Homo sapiens: one gene and its partner. The protein of the gene in region 2 interacts with the protein of the main gene of each other region in a pairwise test. Each region holds a gene or a part of one and is shown on either strand. Other genes may lie near its edges.

Region 1 (7,653 bases), on a different chromosome or scaffold from region 2:
TTCTACCCTTCCTGTGGGTCTAGGCTAAAGTGTCACTTTCTCCAGGCTACTTTCCTCTACCTCCACCCCAGCTAGGGTAGGTGCCCCTCCCCTAGAGCACCTGTACAACGTATTGCAACTGTCAGTTTACTTCCCTGTGCCCCCTGCCCCAGAGTATGGGGCCAGCACCTCCTTGCCCACCATTATATCACAGGCATTCAAATATCTGTTAAATATATTCTAAGTTTACTCAGTGAACAAAATATGAATGTGGCCCATACAGTAAGGGAAACATGTCCAAAGTCAGTTGTGATACGATGGAAACAAGGCGGCAATGTTGCTATGCTTTGGTATAAAATACAAACTACACAATTGTCTACAAACGTCCTTAGGAAAGGTTAAAACATTGCACCAAAAAGAACACTTTTCACGATAAAAATACTAGTTTTGTGGTCACTACTCCTGCTAGGTAAACTGAAGTTCATAAAAAGTATCAGACTGAAAATATCTAAAAAGAAGCCCTGGTTGCTTATAGGTCAAGTACAACATTAGTGTAACTTTTCCTGTCTGCTGCCACCAAACTCTATTGGCATTATCAGAACCCTACCGGCTAAAGGTAAAAGGCTGGCCGGGCGCGGTGGCTCATGCCTGTAATCCCAGCACTTTGGGAGTCCAAGGCAGGCAGATCACCTGAGGTCAGAAGTTTGAGACCACCTTAGCCAACATGGCAAAATCCCGTCTCTCCTAAAAAACACAAAAATTAGCCGGACATAGTGGTGTGCACCTGCAGTCTCAGCTACTTGGGAGGTTGAGGCAGGAGAACTGCTTGAACCCGGGAGGTGCAGGCTGCAGTAAGTCGAGATCACGCCACTGCACTCCAGCCTGGGCAACAGAGCAGGGCTCCGACTCAAAAATAAATAAATAAATAAAGGTAAAAGGCTATTCCATTTCCTTAGTTTCTAAGCCTTGATATAAGTCTTTCGATAAAGATTCCATTCATGGTAACAGTCCGAAGGACATAAACGTGTTGCCAGGAAAGAGACCTGATACATCCTGAGCATTAGCTGCCACTGGCAGCGACTTTCTTTAGGACATATGTCTTACAATGAGTTACAATCTGAGGCTTGTGACACAAGATTTTTCCAGGGCAGCAGACTGATACCATAAACATGATGGTACTACGCACTCTAAAGAGCTCACCAGCTCCACCCTACACTCCCTGTGTGAAGCGGCAAATTATCCACCCAAAGCCTCAGTTTCCCCAGCTAATAATGAGATAATGGTTCCTACCTCGCAAGATTCTTGTGGGAATTAGACAGTCCATGAAAGCACTTCACAGGCAAACCAATTATTTTCAAATCAAAATGAAGGGAAGACTAGAAATATTTTCACATTTTTAGGACTTTTTATATGCCACAACTTATTTTTGACTAATGTCCTTCCACAGGGAAATTTTTGAGAAAGGCAGAAAAATGAGAAAATGAAAATCCACTTCTTTGTCATAACCTTGAGATACGACAACTTCCACAGAAGTCTACATTAAGATCCACTTTCTAATCTTTCTCTGCACTCCCAAAATTACTCTTAATTTCTGTTAACCATTCCTACAATATGGGAGATAGCAAAGGGAAAACTACTTCCATACTTCTTCCCAAGATGTCCTCACCAGAAACAATCTTCCTTCCTGCCTCTATGTCTCCAAATATACGGAATCTCTCAAAAAATAAAACTAAAACAAAACGATAAAAGAGAAAAGGGACTCAAATCACAAAAGCCAGCCTTCAAAGTCTCCAGCTTTCTTACTGCAGAACTACAGTCATGTGGTATGATGGAGGCACCTGTTAGGTGGCAATCCATGAAGCTTAAAGTGTTACCAGGAGAATTTAAACAGTAATGGGGGGAGGAAGAGGAGCTGATTTCCCACCTCACATTTTTTTCGCCTTAACACATGATGGCCAAACAATATATGCTACCCACTGTCAACATTTTTATCATTTTTACTTAAATTGAGAAAGAGGAGAATTTGAGAGCCAACTGAGGAAACTGGATCTCATATTCCCCAATCCAGGCTGACTTCAGGTTTTGTGTGGTTTTTTTCTTCCTTTTTGACAAGGAAATTTTACATATCTCCTGAAACGTGTTTTACATGAAGGTGAGACCTCAACAATCTTATAACTTTACCCCAGCCTGGTTCTGGACTCGGTTTTTACAAACGGGTGACGTGTGAATAGCTTCCTAAAAGCAAATGGGGCACTGGGATATAATCTAGGAAGTGATGATGCAAGTCTCCGGAGGACGGGGAGGAGGGGAGGTGAAGAAGTCAGAGGAAATACCCTCCTAGTGCCTGGGCACCAACTCACGCCCCGGGAGGGAGGAAGGGCTGGCTTCCACATGCCCACGGAAGGGGCACCCCTGCTCCTCCCGGAGCGGTCAACGCCGCCCCCTCATCCCTCCCCGCCGCCCTGCCCCCCTCACCCGTGGCCCAGGAGGCCCCCGTGGGCCCGAGCTTCAGGCCGGCGAGTCCCAAAGGGTAGCAACGCACCCCCGGCAGGGCCTTCTCTGCCCACCCCCAGCTCCCCACCCGGCACCCCTCCCCGGAACGCGACCCCCACCCCCTCCCCGTAGGCCCGGGCTGGGCCCAGCCTCCAAGGTTCCGGCCTCCCGGGCCCCGAGGCCTGCCCAGGCTGCCCTGGCGTCTGCGCCCCCGGCCCCCGCCCCCCGCCCCCACCCGGCCGGGCACTTACCCCCAGAAGCCGCAGGGACAGCGAGGCGGCAGGCTGGGCGCTTTGCTGCGCTCGCTCCCAGCGTCTCCCATGGTGCTCGGCGGCGGCGGAGCTCGGCGGCGGCAGCGGTGGCGGCGGCTGGGCCCGGGCCCCGCTCTGAGGAGGCGGTGGCGGCGGCGTCGGGGGGCTCGGGGCGGGGGGAGGGGGAAGGAGCGGGCGCGCGGGCGGGCGCGAGTCCGGGGCTCGGAGCCGGGATTCCAGGCCGGTCAGCTGGAGGCGGGCCGCACCACTCGGCCTGCGGAGACGGGGAGGGGGCGGAGAGGCGCGGAGAGAAGAAGGAGGGAGCCGAGGAGGAGGGGCGTGCGGACGCACCGAGGACCGCGGGGGAGGAGGGACACAGACGCCCTCGGCGGGTCTCACCGCCGCTCCCCAGCCAGAGAGATGTCCTGTGCGGTGGCGCAGGGAAGGACCGGAGCCCCCCGCCGGCTCCGGAGTCGCAGCGGCCGCTCTGAAGCCCCGGGCCCTGCTGTCTCCGTAACACCGTCCCCTCCCCCGGAGGCTGCGCTGACCGGACAATGGCCGCTCCGCCCCCTCCCCGGCGTGCGCCCCTCCCGAGGAGTCACAATGGTCTCGCCCGGGGGAGCCAACGCCAAAGCCCAGCCGCTGATCAGCTGGGATCCGGGCGTGCCACTTCGTTCCGCGCCTCAAAGGCGGAGTGCGGGGCTGTGGGAGAAAACGAGAGCCTCGGGCTGTCGCCCGGCGACGGGCGGCTGAGGCCTTCGTATTCTTAGAACTTTTAGAATCTGAAGCAAACTTATCTTCCCCCTGTCTGAAGAAGGGGAGCAGGTTTCTGAGTACTCCGGGGCGCGGTGCCTCCCCCTAAACGCGAATGGTGCGCTCCAAGCGGGAGGGGGAGGAGCAGATTAGTTGTGTAGGGTAAATTGGGCCAGTCCCAGAGTGGCGGCGCATGCGCCCGTAGAACCCGTAACCGAGTGCGAGGAGGGGCCTGGGGGAGCAATGCCAAACGCGGAAGTGGAGCTCTGGCTTCCCGGGGGCGTCGGAGTCAAGGTCCCTGGAGCTGCCGCTCTGGCTCCTGGGCGATTCCGGGGAGCCATTCTCCCCAATTTGCCAACTCCCTGGGCATCTCTCTCTCTCTTCCTGGTCCCGCCACACCCAAACAACTCTTATAGTTCCACCCGGTATACTGGTCTCTTGACAGGAACTTTTGGGAAATGCCCCTCCCCCAGCCCCTTGTCTGGGGCAACTTCCTTGTCTCTTCTCCCCCACCGGTGTTGGGGAGTTCCTTGTCTCCACTCCCAACCACAGAGCCACAAGTACATTATCTATGCCCAGGCGAGTCCCTATGCCCAGGCTAGGAGAGCCGCACTTCTTCCTACAGCTGACACGTTTGGTTTTTGGAGGGGAAAGGGGAGCTGTAGCTGAATCAGTAATGGAAATTGGTAAGTGACCAAAGAAGTTTGAGACACTAAAAAAATGAGTCCTTTAACGATCCTAGTCCTTGATCCTGAGCTCATTCTGATCTCCAGTTAGTCATGAACAGAGAAATCGATTATTGATGACTAATTCAACACGGAGGCAACATCCTCCAGACCTTTTGGAGACCCATCGCTGAGGAAGACTTCCTGGCTCTTAGGAATAGCTGCCGTATACCCTCCTTGCCTGTCGGGTATATCAGAGCCTCAGAGAGACTATTACCTAGATTAATTTGATTACCAAATGTTGCTATCTTATTTCTTTATATACCAAATCACATTTCTGTTTGTGCATACTGTGTGGGTTTGTTAACATTGATGTTTATTTTGGCCTCTAAAGAGCAAGGATCGCATTTAGCTTAATATGCCACAGATGCTGTTGATGGTGAAGTTAATGATTGCAAAAATCAAGCACTTAAAGCCAAAACACCCTAAAATGTGAGTGCTGATTTATTATGCACAATGTTTAGTTTTAATTTGGTGGATTTTCCAAAGCCTTCAATAAGTATATCTGTAAGAAAGTGCATAGAAAAAGCCGGACGCTGTGGCTCACGTCTGTAATCCCAGCACTTTGGGAGGCCAAGACGGGTGGATCACCTGAGGTCAGGAGTTCGAGACCAGCTTGGCTAACATGGTGAAACCCCGTCGCTAGTTAAAAAAAAAATACAAAAACTTAGCCGGGCATGGTGGCACGCGTGTAATCCCAGCTACTTGGGAGGCTGAGGCAGGAGAATCGCTTGAACCCGGAGGGCGGGTGTTGCAGTGAGCCGAGATCATGCCATTGCACTCCAGCCTGGGCAACAAGAGCGAGAGCGAAACTCTGTCTCAAAAAAAGAAAGAAAGAAAGAAAAAATGCATAGAAAGGATAAAGCCATACAGCACACCTTGCTCTCATTGGATTCATATTACCCTTAAATCTTCATTTAAGCCGACATAAAATTCCCACATGCGTGAGATACTTAACAGCCTTTGAGTTTAACAAAGATTAAGTGGGATTATCTCTCTTGGCATCTTGATGATTTTCTTTTATGTACAGAAAAGGAAACTCGACAACTAAAAGGAGAATTCAACATAAAAAGTGATTGTCATTTTCCAAACTGCTTTCCTGTTTGCCAGTTATTCAACAAACATTTATTCAGTACCCAGTATACACAAGGACTTTGCTAAGCACTCTGGAGACTAAAAGGATTAATAAAATGTAGCATTCACCAGCAGGTCCCTACATATAATGTAGATAATTTGGTTCCAGTCTTCCTCTCAGACTTCATTTTCTACTCTTCTCTATTCACTCTGCGAAGCAGACACTAGTTGCCATTCCTCAAATACCTTGCTTTCCCACATCTCCATTCCTTTGTCCTCCTGTTCCTGACTGCTTCAGCTGCCTTTTCTCTTTATATGTATACACACAACACAAGGAGATAATCTTATACAACCCAAGGACACAGAGAGCAGTAAGATCGCATGAAGGACTGAAATAGGTACCTAATACATCAACAGGAAGCCAAGTGTTTGGTTTTTTTCGATATCTTTTTCTCTCTGGTTACAGGTTCTTCCATCTCTGCTTCTCTCTACAAAGCTGCTTTATAATCTCGGCAGAGCTGTTTTCACTGCTTTTTTGGGAACGTAATCCAGGTTTACCCAGCCTCACTTCAAGAACAAACAGAGACTAATTAGTATCTATGAATCCCAATCCCCAGGAGAAAGAAACTGATTGGTTCGATTTATGTCCGCTTGTGTACTCTTGGTACAATCACCTTTGACCAACAGGGCAGTTATGTAGTCAGGTCTTTTTGTTTTGTAAAGCAGACATGGCTGCCAGAACCCCATCTTTGTAGGCTATGTTCTCAAAGTTATGTACTTGGCAAAGATTCCAAAAAATGTCCACCACAGACCATAAAGGAGTAAATTGCAGCTGAACTTCAAAAGCATAAAGAACAATTGACATGTTAAGGATTTTCAACAGACTGACTCCTACTTAAACAAATTCAGACCTGAATTTAAATGGAACTCCTTCAAAGAAGTCATCCCTGACCCAAGCCCCAATCAAAATTTGGTGGCCCCATTATTATCTTACATGGCACTCTTTTTCTTTATAGTACCTATCATAGTTTAAATATGTATTTGTGAGTCTCCTCTCCAAAAATCATGTCTGTTTTGTTTACTGTGATATACACAATACTCAAGGTGCATTTGGGAGGCGTTCAATAAATGTTGTATGAATAAAAGCACAATAATTTGTTAGTCAATGTGAGACCCACAAATGGATTGGAGTCATAGTTAGACAATCCTGGGGGAATGTCTTAGTTACCAACCCACCCTCCCTAGAAGACATTGAAGCTCTCTGCTTTTTTTTTTTTCTGACCTCATTCATCACAAGGCTGCCAGCTTTTTTGTCACACTGAAGTTGTATGAGATGAGACAGTATTTAGCTGCTGCTTATGACGTTCCTAGCCAGATAACTCTTTACTCTTAGTTCCCAGTGTCTCTATCTATAGAGCCCTTGATCCAATTCCTATAACAAGCCCACTTAGTTGACTGAAAGCTCAGAGAGGACATAAAATTTCAGGGCATCATCAAATTAGGGGAGCAAAGTGTGGGGGTAATTGGCAGAGTGCTTTTGTCGTAATTGTCTTGACTATTTTCTGTCGTGTATTATGTTCCAGATGAACCTGTGATGTGACTCCTGGGAGTAGTTTGCAATCACCATTGGCCCAAAAGGAGCCATCTACGTGCTCAGTGGGGTCTAGTAAAGGATAATATTAATTCTTCAGCAGCCAGAGCTTTTGAAGTAGGAACTGAGGGTGTATAGAAAAGAGCCTGGTATGATTCAAGGTCAGGAGCAAACAATGGCTGCCTTCTTGGTAAGAATTCAAAAGACCTACTTAGCCCTGGAAGACTTTACCAAAAAGAAGGGACTTGTAGAGACCTGAGAGAAAGCAGATGATCCTCCACTCTAATTCTAATCCCTACCCTTGAAACTCACTCTCAGTTCAAAACTTGTCATCATTATAATCCATCCTAACCTAGTATTAGCCCCAATGTCCAATCCAAACTCTAGATTTAATTCTAATCCTAATATTATCTGTAAAATTTAATCTCAGTTCCCAACTCTAGTTTTATGAGCTTAACAAAGGCTCTTTGCCTTGCCACTGAGTTATTTTCCCTAGCTCCTTTTTCTTGGGTCCCTTGACCCTGACTGACGAATGAGAGCAGAGAACCCTATAACATCCTGGACCTCTGGAGAGAATGAGAGCCAATTTCAATAATCCAGGTTGGATCCAAGGCCTTGGGCTGCCAGGAAAGAGAAAGTGGGGCATCTGTGACCAGAGCAGGAGGCAGAGACCCTGCCCAGTCACATTTCTTGTTGCCTAATTCAGGGACTACTAAGCCTCTGAAAGTCCAGAATACATGCACTCCAAGTCACCTATGTAGACTCAGGAATGTGAGGTACAGTTGGC
Region 2 (7,595 bases):
CATAGTTCTACTCATAGCTCACACACATCAATTTAACATTTAACATAGAATTTTACATGTTAAATTTTTTTTTTTTTTTGAGACGGAGTATCACACTGTCGCCCAGGCTGGAGTGCAGTGGCACGATCTCGGCTCACTGCAAGCTCCGCCTTCCGGGTTCACGCCATTCTCCTGCCTCAGCCTCCCGAGTAGCTAGGACTACAGGCACCCGCCACCGTGCCCAGCTAATTTTTTGTATTTTTAGTAGAGATGGGGTTTCACCGTGGTCTGGATCTCCTGACCTCGTGATCCGCCCACCTCAGGCTCCCAAAGTGCTGGGATCACAGGCGTGAGCCACCACACCCAGCAATTTTTTTTTTCTTTTTTTTTTTTTGAGACCGAGTCTCACTCTGTAGCCCAGGCTGGAGTGCAGTGGCATGATCTAGGCTCACTGCAAGCTCTGCCTCCCAGGTACACACCATTCTCCTGCCTCAGCCTCCCAAGTAGCTGGGACTATAGGCACCCACCACCATGCCCGGCTAATTTTTATGTATTTTTAGTAGAGATGGGATTTCACCGTGTTAGCCAGGATGGTCTCAATCTCCTGACCTCGTGATCCACCCTCCTCAGCCTCCCAAAGGGCTGGGATTACAGGCGTGAGCCACCGCGCCCTGCCATGTTAAATGTTTTGTCCCAGTGTGCTGTCACATAGTCTTGTGTGACTTTGTCTTCTTATTCCACAGACAGAACCATCTAGACAGTGCCCTAACGCAGTACAGTCTGTGGCCTCTGATGAGCATAGATAACTGCCCCAGCCAAGAGGCTCTGAAAGGCTGCAACATTGGGGGCAGAGTTTGACCTGGTTAGTCAAAGAACAGGTTGGCCCAGCACCTAGCTTCCCTTGCTCCCTCCCTCCTTCCCTGCCCGACCTCAGCCAGCTGTACCTTTCTCTCCAGTCTCCTTGGCGTGTCCCACCACCTCCTTCACCACTTCTTCCACGGCATGAACTGAACAGAGGAGACAAGTCCAGGGTGAGGGCTCAGAGCAGAGCCGCTGCCCTCCCAGTCCAGGGTGAGGGCTCAGAGCAGGCCCACTGCCCTCCCAGTCCAGGGTGAGGGCTCAGTGCTGGCTTATCCTCACAATGGACCTATACATCCCTGGACATCCTAGATGGGGCTCTGGGATGCCACCCCCAGCCAGGACAGACTGGCTCATGAGAAGGACCTTCCCCCACAGCTGGCTTCCTTCGGAGACGCCAGGGCCTTGGCTGCCGGGAGACGAGCTCAGTGAGCCCCATGAGGGCATGGGTCCCTGAAGCCCCTTGGCCCTGCCCGGCCTGGAATGGCAATGAGCAGGCCATCTTGCCAGCTGAGACATGAAGCCCAGGCTGGGCCTCTGTGCCAGGTCACACCCCTCTCAGGATGTGCTAGCGCCTGCCTCAGGTTGGTTTCCAAAGCCTCATCCAGTAAAACCAGGTCTCTCAAAGCAATTCCTCCAACAAAAGGGAATTCTCTGCCTACTTCAGAGTTTTTTAAAGTGTAGGTGGTAGCATGCTAGAACTGAAGGATTTCAGAGTCAGAAGAAATGGTTCTTATTCTAACTCTACCTTCCACCTCTTGGTTCCCTCATCTTTAGAATGGGAATCTGTTGGGGTGATGAGACCCAACACCAGGTCGCGGGGGCGGCAAGTCCAGAGGAGTCAAAGGAATGAGAAAGAGACAGTTTGAGAGAGAAAATGGGAGCGGGGCGCCATCGCGAGTGTGGAGGCTGCGAAGGCCCGGAGTTCTGGGAACCCATGCTATTTATTGGTGATCTAACAAAGAAACAGGTGGTGAGGATGTGGCGGTTGAAAGGAAACGGTGTATCAAGTGAATGAGAAACATACGGCTACTTGAGAAAATGGGAGTGCTAGAAGCAAGGAGCCAGCCAATCTAGCAAGCCCTGCCTCAGCTTCTCTCCCAACACTCAGCTTTTCTCCCAACAGGAATCATACAAAACTCAGAGGCTAGTGAAAGGTTAAAGCAGGTGGTCCACACCAGCTGCAGAGTCAAAAACAAAATACGCGTCTGCTGCCATTTAGAAAGAGGACACAAACTCAGGCAAGACTGTTTTTCACACGATGACCCATGAGTGGCTCCTGGCTGGGCCTCCCCACACATAGCTGCTGACCTCTGAATACAACATACACTTCGGGACCAGGTGCGGTGGTTCACGCCTGCAATCCCAGCACTTTGGGAGGCCAAGAGGAATGGATCACTTGAGGTCAGGAGTTTGAGACCAGCCTGGCCAACATGGCGAAACCCTGTCTCTGCTAAAAATATAAAAATTAGTTGGGCATGGTGGTGGGTGCCTGTAATCCCAGACACTCAGGAGGCTAAGGCATGAGAATCACTTTGAACCCAGGAGGCAGAGGTTACAGTGAGCCGAGATCGCACCACTACACTCCAGCCTGGGTGCCAGAGCAAGACTCCATTTCAAATACAAATAAAAATAAAAATAAACATGCTTCAGGGGACTTGGATGAAATTGAAAATGCCCTTTTTGACTTTGAACAGACTTGGTGACTTGTTTAGAAATCTTTGAAGCTTTAAAGTTATGGTAAAAATAAAAATCCATCTTCCTTTTCCTGCATAGGTTATTCAGAATAGGCTGTTTTGACAAGAAAGGCTCCCCAGATTTCCAGAGGGAAGGGTCCAAGCTGCCAGTGTTCACCCAGCACCAGGACTCATGCCCTGCCCCCAGGAGACCTCCCCAGGTCTGCACCCCTCAACTCCGTGCTGACTTGGTAGAGCAGGGGACCAGGGTTCCTGAGGGGCCAAGGCCTCCTCCCAGGTCCTCACCTGCCTACTTAGATCCGCCTCCCACAGACCCAGTCTGCCCCAGATCCCCCCAGCCCAGGTAGAAAGGAGCCCCAGGTCCTCACTGGCTCCCTCGGTGGCCTTCTCGGTGCGGTGGGCCAGGCCTTCGGCAGCCAGCTTCCCCAGGCCTCCCAGCATCGTGTGGCAGCAGACAGTGGTGAACTAGGATGCTGAGGACTGGCCCAACATGCTTTTATAGCTGCCTCTGGTGCCTGTCTAGGCTCTGGGGCAACAAGCCCTTGCCCCAGCCCAGTAGGAGGCTGGACAGGTGAGTCAGCGAGGGCGGCAGCAGGAAGGGGCTGGGCGGAGCCACCCTGGCACTGGGGTGGCAGCATCCCCTGACAGCCTGAGGCTTCTGTAACCCTGTCCTAGGGACCCCGTGAAGGATAGGGGCAGGGAGCAGGGCTGGACAGGAGAGATCTGGACATGCCTCTTCCTTGAGGCAGAGGGCCTGAGTGCCAGCCCCCCGAGACCAAAACTTCCCAAGCCTGGGTACTGATATGTACCTGGAGACAAGGCCTAGGATTCCAAGCCTGCTGCTCAAGGTCCCCAGTGTGGCCTAGTAAGAGGTTTAGGGGTTCTATGGGCCTGGAGACCTGGGCAGTCCTTTGGGTCATGAACACAAGTGGAGTGAGGGTGACTGCCCTCCCCATTCCTGGAGACCCTGGCTCTGCAGAGCAGTTTGTGGCCTCTATGGGACAGGGTGGGGCGTTCAGGGTGGTGCCTTGCCTGAGTCAGAGGGGGGCACAGCACTGGGCAGAAGTGTAGTCACCTGGCTTTGCTCAGCTGATGCTCACTCACCCAAGAGTGTCTGTGAGGCCAGCAGTGCCCTCCTATCCCCTGGCAGTCCTGGAGGAGTAGACAGAGGCCTCCACCACCACTCAGGGAGATGCTTCTGGCCTTAGCTAGAATCCCCTAGAAAGCAGCTTCCCTGGCTCCTGGTGCATCACATGAGGAGTGGCAGGGCTGCTCCCTAGTTACTCATGATGGACAGACATGCCTCAAGCCACCTGCCACATGCTGCTTCCCTTAGTCACCAGCCCAACCTGAGCCTCCGTTTCCTCATCTGTAAAATGGGGATAGCGTGCCTTCCTGGCTGTGTCACTAATCGTCCCTGAGACAAAGCATGCAAGCTCCTGGTAAACACCTGTTCCCTCCACTCATCATTGAGGTGCCCTTTGGCAGTGAGCTCTGACCAACCGGTAGGGTGGGCCAAGGAGTGACTGGGACGTGAGGCTGCCTTGGAGCCAGAGGGCTGGGGAATGTGACTTCCGCTGGCCAGGAGCCAAGGAGAGGTCTTCCCATCCTCCTACTTCTGGGGTGCAGGCCTGTGGCAGGGGTCTGAGGCTCTCTCTTCAATGCAGGCTCCTGGAGCTGCTCTCCTGGGTGTGTTGGGGCCTGATTAGTTTACTGGACTGTGGGCCCTCCCAGCCTGGGACTCGGGAGCTGAGACCCTCTTGCATTCCTGCATGGTGTTTGCGGGCTCCAGGGCTACGGCCAGTCCCCCTAGGGTGGACAGTGGGTATCGTGGGCAGCAGGACCTCTGGGTCTCAAGACTACGGCCCCACACATGCCATTGCTATCTCCTTTGGGCAGGGGTGAATTGGGGCTTAAACAATTTAGAGGGGCCCTCTTTATGAAAAAGAATACAATAATATGATTCTTGCACATTTTTCATTTATATACGTATGAACTTCTGGACCCAGAAGGGGCTGTGAAAGTCGGGGGCCTGGAGCTCAGGCGGGTCCAGATGACCCTGTCCTCCTTTTGTAACAGCCAGAGTCCAGGATGTTTTTGCCCAGGGCATTGGGCTGGCACTGCAGAGGCCTGGGGGATGGGGGGACACCTGGGACATGGCTGGTGGGAATTGTTCTAGGAAACCTCAGGGATTCTCCCTGGACCTGTCAAAGCCCCTTCCCTGTTTCTTCTGAGGCTGTGTGTCCCCCACTCGCACAAGGGTCCTTTCTATGCCTGTTCCGCTGATAAATGTCATCTGCCTGCTCTAGAATGGCTTCCAGACCCCACAGACCCCCTCCTCACGAGCTCCCACCCTAGGGTACTCTCCACCAGTCCCCGCTTTCAGGAGCTCACCAGACTCAGACAGCCTGTTGTCAGAGCTCAGCCACACAGCAGGACCCTGGCCCACTGCCCAGACCAGAGCCAGGCCCACCGCAGCCTCGGGGGACAACTGTCCTTCCCCCACCCCCTCCACATGGTCCCCTGCCCATGAGACCCTGCCCTGCTAATTTAATGCACTGCCTTGGTGTGAGCACTGTGATTCTAATGACAACACACCATGGCCTTCTGGGCAAGGCTGGGTCCAGACACAGATCCCAAATGCCTGCTGGGGAGAAGGCAAGAGGCCCGGGGAGGCCCAGGACAAGACATGGGTCCCAGGCCCTGGTGCCCTCCCTCTTGGCCTTCCAGCCGCTGCTGCTGTGACCAGATTCCCATCCACCCAGCCCAGTCCATGGGCCCCAGCAAGCCATCTGTGCCCCACAGAGGGCAGACCCCTAAGAGTGGGACCCCTTTCTAGCCAAAGAACATGAGATGGCCCCAAATCCTCCTAAACAGGATGGATCCTGGTCTGAGGGGCTGGGCTCAGGTGACTCCTGCAGGGAACTTCACCTGCCTGGATGAGGTCAAGGGTGAATCAGGTGGGGCCTGCCCTCCACCACCCCATCATGGAAGAGGTCCAGCCCACGGTGGGCCCAAGAGGGCCGCCCTTGGACCTAGGGACCCAAGTCAGCATATCCTGAGTCAGAAGGTCAAGTCCAGCCTCCCCTCAGGCAGGGAGAATCTGGCTTTGACAGGAGCAGATAAATTCTCAAGGTGGAATTTGCCCAACAAACTAGTTTGGCAAGGGACTAGCTGGCTGAATCATTGAGTCAAGGACAGCCAACGTTTCCAATAGCAATTTGCCAACTTAGCAATGACCAATTCTGAAAAACAATTTGTTTATTTGAAATACTTAAATACTTAGGCTGTCTCATGTCTGAAGCATGATGATGCCTTGCGTGATTTAAAGGACAGACGTCACGAATGCCAAGAGTTTTGTGGCGGTCCATCCTGCCAGTGTCTTCTCCCACTTTTGCTCTGTGGATTTGAGCTCACAGTTTGTGCTGTGCCCACCACCTGCCCACCCTAACGAGACTCCTGGAGACTTGGCTGGCCAGTCACCAGAGGAAGAGGGGCCCAGCAGCATGCCAGCATTCACCCACCTGTGGGTATCAGTCAGGCTCCTGGTGGAAGCCAGAGGACATATTGGAATGGGTATTTGAGGAAAGGGGCTGTTCACAGAAGTGTGGACCGAGTTAAGGGAACCAGTAAGAGATGAGGAATGTCCTGGACCAGCAAGAGTGGGAGCTGTTATCTCCCTGGGTCTAGAGGGACAGGAAAGGTGTCCACAGATCCCAAAGAGAGCTGTGGAGGTAGAGGAGGATCATCAGGAGCTGCAGCCATCAGTAGAAAGATGTGGCCACTGCCAAACCAGCAAGGAAGAATCTGAGCGAATAACCACCTCTCCTCTCTCTCTCCCACCTCCTATGACATCCTCCACTGTTTGAATTCCACTAGGGCCAGACAGTGAGGCACCCTGGTGATGCAGTCCAAGAGGGAGTGGGCAGAGAGGAGCCAGTGGGTATGGAGGGGAAACAGAGAAACAGAATTCCAGCTCACTCTGCGGGATTTCTGGGTCTGATAGAAACATGGCATTATTATTATTATTATTATTATTATTATTATTATTATTATTATTATTTCGAGATGGAGTTTCGCTCTTGTTCCCCAGGCTGAAGTGCAGTAGCATGATCTCGGCTCACTGCAACTTCTGCCTCCTGCGTTCAAGAGATCCTCCTGCCTCAGCCTCCCGAGTAGCTGGGATTACCGGCACATGCCACCAACGCCTTGCTAAGTTTTGTATTTTTGGTAGAGATGGGGTTTCACCATGTTGACCAGGTTGGTCTTGAACTCCTGACCTCAGGTGATCCGCCTGCCTCGGCCTCCCAAAGGGCTGGGATTACAGGCATGAGCCACTGTGCCCAGCCTGCAGCAGCTTAATTTTACAGTGTCCCTTTTCTCCTTCTGGAAACTATATGGAGCAACAACAAGACTGAGGAGGAGGAGGAGGAGGAGGAGGAAGAGAAGGAGGAGGAGCAGGAAAAAGCCCATCATCAACACACACATCAAACTCAACTTCAGAGAAATTAGGAAGCTGGGAAGCCACGTAAACCCAAAAGCAGGAGACACCAGCAGAACCAACGCAGGAAGCCAGGGAAGTGCAGAAGAACAGGGCATGGGGGGCAACCCAGGGGGGAAATCTTCACTGTTGCCAGCAACACACACTCCCAGCAGGAGAGGACCCTCAGAGTGAGAATGCAGAGCTGGAGAAGTGAAGAAGGAGCAGGTGGTGCCCGGGGAAGTCCAGCGGTGTGGTATCTGAGAGCACTCCTTCCCAAGAGAGGCTGGAGCACTTGAGAAGGCAAGGCTGAGTCCCCGGAGGCTGTATCCGGGAAAGGAGGCTGGCAGTAGAATCTTCCTGAAGCCAAGTGGGTTCTGAGAGGCAGAGGGGCAGTGGTACAGAGGTGAGGCTGACGCTTCTGTGCAGGAAGGGCAGGCTCCTGAGGAAGGGAGACCTGAATGCTCTCCACTAGATTCCCAGGGAGCCCCACTCCCTCCACAGGACCTCGCGCTGACATCTGGGAAATGCCATTCATACTGGAACCTCCGACACACTGCCATGAATGTGAGGGTTTCGTG

Evidence for each region. Proteins that work in one complex are often made in the same cells at the same time.
Region 1: the proteins of FAM25A (region 2) and ZFAND3 interact in binary tests that used the Homo sapiens proteins (3 or more experiments, as listed by UniProt).

Annotation. Positions count from the first base shown.
Region 1 is NC_000006.12:37,815,087-37,822,739, reverse strand, and holds the start of ZFAND3 (AN1-type zinc finger protein 3), read right to left. Parts: upstream 3,014-7,653; 5' UTR 2,795-3,013; coding exon 2,724-2,794; intron 1-2,723.
Region 2 is NC_000010.11:87,015,705-87,023,299, reverse strand, and holds the start of FAM25A (protein FAM25A), read right to left. Parts: upstream 3,007-7,595; 5' UTR 2,976-3,006; coding exon 2,903-2,975; intron 987-2,902; coding exon 924-986; intron 1-923.